2 linked regions of the Homo sapiens genome follow. The protein of the gene in region 1 purifies or fractionates together with the protein of each later gene. This does not show direct contact. Each region holds a gene or a part of one and is shown on either strand. Other genes may lie near its edges.

The links. Proteins that work in one complex are often made in the same cells at the same time.
Region 2: the proteins of SP7 (region 1) and PITRM1 purify together in Homo sapiens (affinity purification with mass spectrometry; one large-scale study listed by BioGRID and IntAct). This does not show direct contact.

Annotation. Positions count from the first base shown.
Region 1 is NC_000012.12:53,329,855-53,333,354, reverse strand, and holds part of SP7 (transcription factor Sp7), read left to right. Parts: intron 1-3,500. UniProt on the Homo sapiens protein: Transcriptional activator essential for osteoblast differentiation. Binds to SP1 and EKLF consensus sequences and to other G/C-rich sequences.
Region 2 is NC_000010.11:3,137,228-3,139,505, forward strand, and holds the end of PITRM1 (presequence protease, mitochondrial isoform 2 precursor), read right to left. Parts: intron 1,823-2,278; coding exon 1,677-1,822; intron 1,111-1,676; coding exon 1,008-1,110; intron 898-1,007; coding exon 804-897; 3' UTR 501-803; downstream 1-500. UniProt on the Homo sapiens protein: Metalloendopeptidase of the mitochondrial matrix that functions in peptide cleavage and degradation rather than in protein processing. Has an ATP-independent activity. Specifically cleaves peptides in the range of 5 to 65 residues.

The sequences.
Region 1 (3,500 bases):
GTTTTGTTTTGTTTTAAGGGTGGTGGGGTGGAGGTCGGGAGGGAACAACTCGAAGGTGGGACTGCTGGGCCCTGGAAAGGGAACACATTTGATCAGGTATGGGGACACATGTTTAGAACTCTTAACCAGTGCTCTTTCCCCAAGTTCTCAGGAGAGAACAATCAGCAAGAGAAGGAAACTGAGGCTGTGGTGAAACTTAGCCACGTGCTCAGCCTGTAGCCCCCAGAGCATTCTGAGTGGGTCTGGTTCCTCGCTCCCCATTCCCTGCCCTCGAGGGCCCTCTGGGCCTCCACTCCCCAGGGCTGGGGTCTCCTGTTGGCCTGGGGCTGGCTGCCTTCTTTCACCCCTCCTTCCCTCCCCACAGCTGGGTGGGGTCCCTGGGCTTGGCTGAGGCCCCTGTGGCCGCAGTGTGAGGGCCGGGCGGGGGACGGCGTCGGCGTTTTTAAAAATAAACCGACCGCAGGGAAACCATCGGAGCCGGGCTGGGCAGAGGGAGAGGGGGCGGTCAGGGGGGAGAAGAAGGGAGGAGTGGCCTGGTCTGGGGGTTTTCTGGGGCCCAGCACCATGGTGGTTTTCTCTTAGGTAGGAAGGCCGCCTTCTTCCTCCTCCTCCCCCTTTTCTTTTTTCCACTCCTTTCTTTTCTTCTCTGCTTTCCTTTGCTTTTCTAGCCCAGTCTCTTTTCCATCATCTCTCCTTCTTAGTTTGTGTCTTTTTACCTTTCTGGTCTTTTAGGTCCCTGCCTATTTCTGCTTCTTTTTTGTTGTTGCTGTTGTTTTTGAGACAGGGTCTTGCTGTGTTGCCCAGGCTGCAGTGCAGTGGCACAATCATAGCTCACTGCAGCCTCTAACTACTTAGCTCAAGTGAGCTTCCCATCTCAGCCTCCTGAGGAGCTAGGACTACAGGCATGCACCACCAAGCCCAGCTAATTTTAAAATCTGTTATAGAAATGGGGTTTCACTATGTTGCCCAGGCTGGTCTCAAACTGCTGGCCTCAAGCAACCCTCCCCCACTTGGCCTCCCAAAGTGCTGGAATTATAGCTATTTCTGCTATTCAATGCCAATTTTTCCTCTCAGGTCCTCCTTCCCCCATTGCTATGGGTCTTTTTTGTCAATCCCTTACCCTATGCAGGTCCTTTGTGCCCCATATCTCTGGGTATCTGCCTCTCTGCTTTGAACTCCATGTTTCTACCTCTTCTTTCTGCTAGGATTTGACTCCTCCCCATCAGCTACCCTGCCATAGCTCACCCGCTGCTTGGAAGATCAGGGGTTCCCGGGAAACCCTGACTGGGGGAACCGTGAGTGTTCACTGTGGTTAGACTGGAGAAAACTTTTGGTGGCTCAGTTTGGGAGTCAACGGGACCTTAGAGAGAGGCAACTGTGCAGGAAGAGCAGCAGGTTTGCACTTGGGGTGTAGCGCAGAAGTGGGGACTGCACACATGCCTCATGGCAACCCCAGGGCCCCAGGCCCACCTCTCGGATTGGCATCGTACACATACTACATGCTAAGAGCTACCAGACAGGTGTGAGAACTCTGGATTCTTGAGTTCTTTTCTCAGCCTTACTGGGAAAGGATCAGGCCCATATGAGTTTATGAAGAACCCAATCCTCAAAACTGTTCTTCTAGCCCTTTCATACCCATATAACTGTATAGGGGTAGATTTTGAGGGCATCTTTTTTGGTGGGATTCCCAGCAATGAATGACCGTCTATGCCAGCCAGGGATGCTATAGGGCATTTCCTCCTTGGATGCCTCACCCAGGGAGAGGCACCATCAGGAACCATGAGTTCCTGAGAGGTAAAGATCTTGAGAGTGGTTTGGCCTGGTAGCAGCAGCATGGTGGGCATTAAGAAGATACCTTTGCCTTTCTTTTTTTTTTTTTTTTTTGAGATGGAGTCTTGCTCTGTAGCCTAGGCTGGAGTGCAGTGGCACCTTCTTGGCTCACTGCAACCTCCACCTCCCAGGTTCAAGCAATTCTCTGCCTCAGCCTCCCGAATAGCTGGGATTACAGGCGCCTGCCACCACACCCAGATAATTTTTTTATATTTTTAGTAGAGATGGGGTTTCACCATCTTGGCCAGGCTGGTTTTGAACTCCTGATCTAGTGATCCACCCACCTTAGCTTCCCAAAGTGCTGGGATTACAGGCGTGAGCCACCGCGCCTGGCTAGAAGATACCCTTGCATTTCTAAAAGACTCCCATATACTACATCCATGTCTTCCTTCATTCACAGTGCTAGAAGGACTACATGTTAGGGGACACTGAGGCATGAAGCAGTGTGGCTGTGGGCCAGTATCTTAGTTACCCCATTCCTTGCCTTGGAAGGGCATGACGACTTTGGGCTCTTACAGCCCTCTCAAAGGGGTACCAGCTGGCACCACAAAGCAGGAGGTGCTCACTGCCTGCTTGAAAGGCATTCTTGTCTCAGCCACAGTTTGGGCTTGGCGGCAGCCCTGTTCCCTCTCAATGTCCCAGTGTCTCCACCATCACTTCCTCTTGCTCTCCAGCCGGAGTCTCTGCCAAGAGATTCCTTAGCAGGGACATGAGGATTGGACCTCAGGGAGACAAGACCACTGCCTTAGTCAGGAGCTGAAGCAGCGACAGGAAATGGAATATCGGGTATGGGATGAAGCTGGGAAAATCTGTCATGGGAGCAAATATAGTCCCCTAATACTTTGACCTTCTCCCTACACTGCACTTTGAGCCTCATCTTTCCTCTCCAAGGCCCTGCCCATGGCCTCGATCTGCTCCAAACCTACTTCCAAGGGTCAGGATCCCCAATTCTCACTTCACCTAGCTGCTGTCTCTATCCCCAGTTCTTCTCACAGCCATTTAAAAAGAGCCCCTGGTGTGTGCCTGTAGTCCTAACTACTCTGGAGGCTGAGGGTGGAGGATCGCTTGGAGCCCAGAAAGAAGTTTGAGGCTACAGTGAGCTGTGATGGTGCTACTGCACTCCATCCAGCTTGGGAGACAGAGTGAGACCCTGTCTCTAAAAATATTTTTTTGGCTGGGTGCGGTGGCTCACACCTGTAATCTCAACACTTTGGGAGGTTGAGGTCAGGAGTTTTGGGTCACTTGAGGTCATCAGTTCAAGACCAGCCTGGCCAACATGGTGAAACTGCGTCTGTACTAAAAATACAAAATAGCTCAATGTGGTGGCGTGCGGCTGTAATCCCAGCTATGTGGGAGGCTGAGGCAGGAGAATTGCTTGAACCTGGGAGGCAAAGTTTGCAGTGAGCCGAGATTGGGCCACTGCATTCCAGCCTGGGTGACAGAACAAGACTTTGTCTCAAAAAATAATTTTTTTTTTAAATAAAAAGAAAAGGCCGGGCGCAGTGGCTCATGCCTGTAATTCCAGCACTTTGGGAGGCCGAGGTGGGCGGATCACCTGAGGTCAGGAGTTTGAGACCAGTCTGGTCAACATGGCAAAACCCTGTTTCTACTAAAAATACAAAAAAATTAGCCAGGTGTGGTGGTGGGTGCCTGTAATCCCAACTCCTCCG
Region 2 (2,278 bases), on another chromosome or scaffold:
GACCTAGGTTGGAACTCTCCGGAAGACTCCTGCCAGAGTAGACACGGCTGCTGGGATGACAGCCCTGCTGCCCTGGTGGGCCCCCCTCCTGTAGGGACAGCGTTTCTGCCTCTTAGCTCTAGTCTGCAAGAGAGAACAGCTGCGCCTCAGAAATGGGGGCAGAGAGCTGGGTGGAGGGAGAGGAGAGGCCAAAAACAAACTCTGTTTGGGAAATCAGAGTCCGACAGCCAAGAAAGAGCTAGCGCGGAGGCTTTCCTTTCTGGCTCTGTAACGATGAAGCAAGCGCTTACTCACCCCAACCCACTTGCTTCTCAGGACGGTTTCCATGCAGCCGCCGCGGTGAACTCCCGTCTGGTGGACACTCCCCCAGGGCCTCGGTGTGATGGAGTTTCCTGAATCAGCGCAGGCAGACGTGGGACACCCTTGTGCACCTTTTCATTTTACTTCTGTTTTTAAATAAAGGCCCTAAATGCTGCTTAAAATAATGACTCAAGCAGAGGTTAAGTCAGAGTTGCCCTTTATTTTTAGATTCTTAAATATTCTAGAATGAGGTAAAACGAGCCTGCCAGTACAAAGTGAAAATTCTACATGGTGCATCTTTGGCGCTTCATGCATGATTATTTCAATGAACCTCTTCCTGGTCACTCTTAAGATAGATCTGAGTTTTTGACTCGCCAGTCAAGGGCTTTGGCGACACTCAATGACATAATATTCTTGGAAAAAGCAGTAGCATTTCTGACTTTTCATATTCAGCTCGGAGGTGTATTGTCTCGGGCTCCTGTGCAGTCGAGCGCCACGGCTGCTCATTGGATGATCCAGGATGGGTCCTTGGCAATTTTCGGGTTCTCGGGTCCGAGGATGGCCAGGCCGTGTGTGCTCTTCCCAGTGCCGAGGTATCTGAGAGGAAGGCAGGCGTGGTCAGCAAGGACTGGCTTCTGCGTGAGCGCTGTTAGAGTCAGCACGAGGGCTTCCAGTCCCAGACGCTGTCTCCCCCGCTCCCCACTCACCTATCGCTCACGGCCAGGAGCTTGTCGTGGCTGACAGCAAAGAGCTGCTCTCTGTGGGCCTGCTTCATCTCATCCGAGAGGCCGTACAAGAAGTGGTCCATTCCTAGAAGACAATCCACAGGCACGATGGAGCCGCTGCCCGGGAGCTCGCGTTGTGGGCTGTGCACTCATGTCCCGGAGGGGACACAGGCATCTCACTGTCATTTCACGTGCATGTTTCAACCACAGGGATGTGTCTAACAACCCAGAGATCACACCCCGACCTCCAGCTCCCACGTGCCACGCTGACCCCTACCCACGCCTGCTTCTGCAGCAGGGATGCAGTCAGCGCCGCGTGAGGCTGATGATGCTGTGAGCAAAAGCGGCTCCAGAGAGTAACGTGGCCATGCCCGGGCCGTGCCCACGTCCTCCTTCCACCCTAAAGAGCCCGGACACTGCCATGGGTTGGCCCCACTGGGTCTCAGGTCAGTAAAACAAATGACAGGATGCACTCTTCTCGCCCGGATGTCAGGAAGCGTGTTTAGGGTGTCAGACGTGGAAATCGTATCACAAGCAAGGATGGAGGCACCAGAAGCTAGTGCTCCTGCCCATGCATGCCGGGAACTTGGAAAACAGCAACGTCATCTGTGAGGCTGTGGGTTGAGATTCTCACTGTTATACTCAAAATACCTTTGTCTGAAGGAGCGACAGGAGCATCTACGGTTGAGAAGACAGAAAGTTTGGCTTCGTCGATGTCTTGCTGTGTGAATTTTCCAGACTTAGCCCAGTCGACAGCCTTCCCAAAAGACTGGAGCGTCTCTATTGTATTTGGGTCCCTAGGAAACCCAGAGAAATAAACGGGCAAGCATTTTACCAGTGGACAAGTTTATGACAAACCTCTGTCGACTTAACAGTTCAACATCTTCTATGGGTTAACAGCTCTATTTTATATCTGATTTAGTCCAAACAGCCCACTGACAAATCGCTCAATTACTCTCAATGGAAATTTAAATCTGATCACATAAGCCTTTCAACATGTTCTCCCTCTTAGACAAGGTCTGTCTGCACAAAGTCCTCCCTAGATTATTTAAATACACTTCTCTGTGACCTCATCAGGAGAGGAAAGTCAGTGGAGGGTAGGGGCAGGTCAGGATTACAGGGAAATTACAAAGACTTACATGGAAAAATTAAGCAAACAAAGGTTTTCCTTTCATCTCCCTGAAGACACACCCAGGGTAGTACAGGAATCAGCCTGAGGGGGCCAATCCAGACTTCCCTTCGTGTAAATGCAA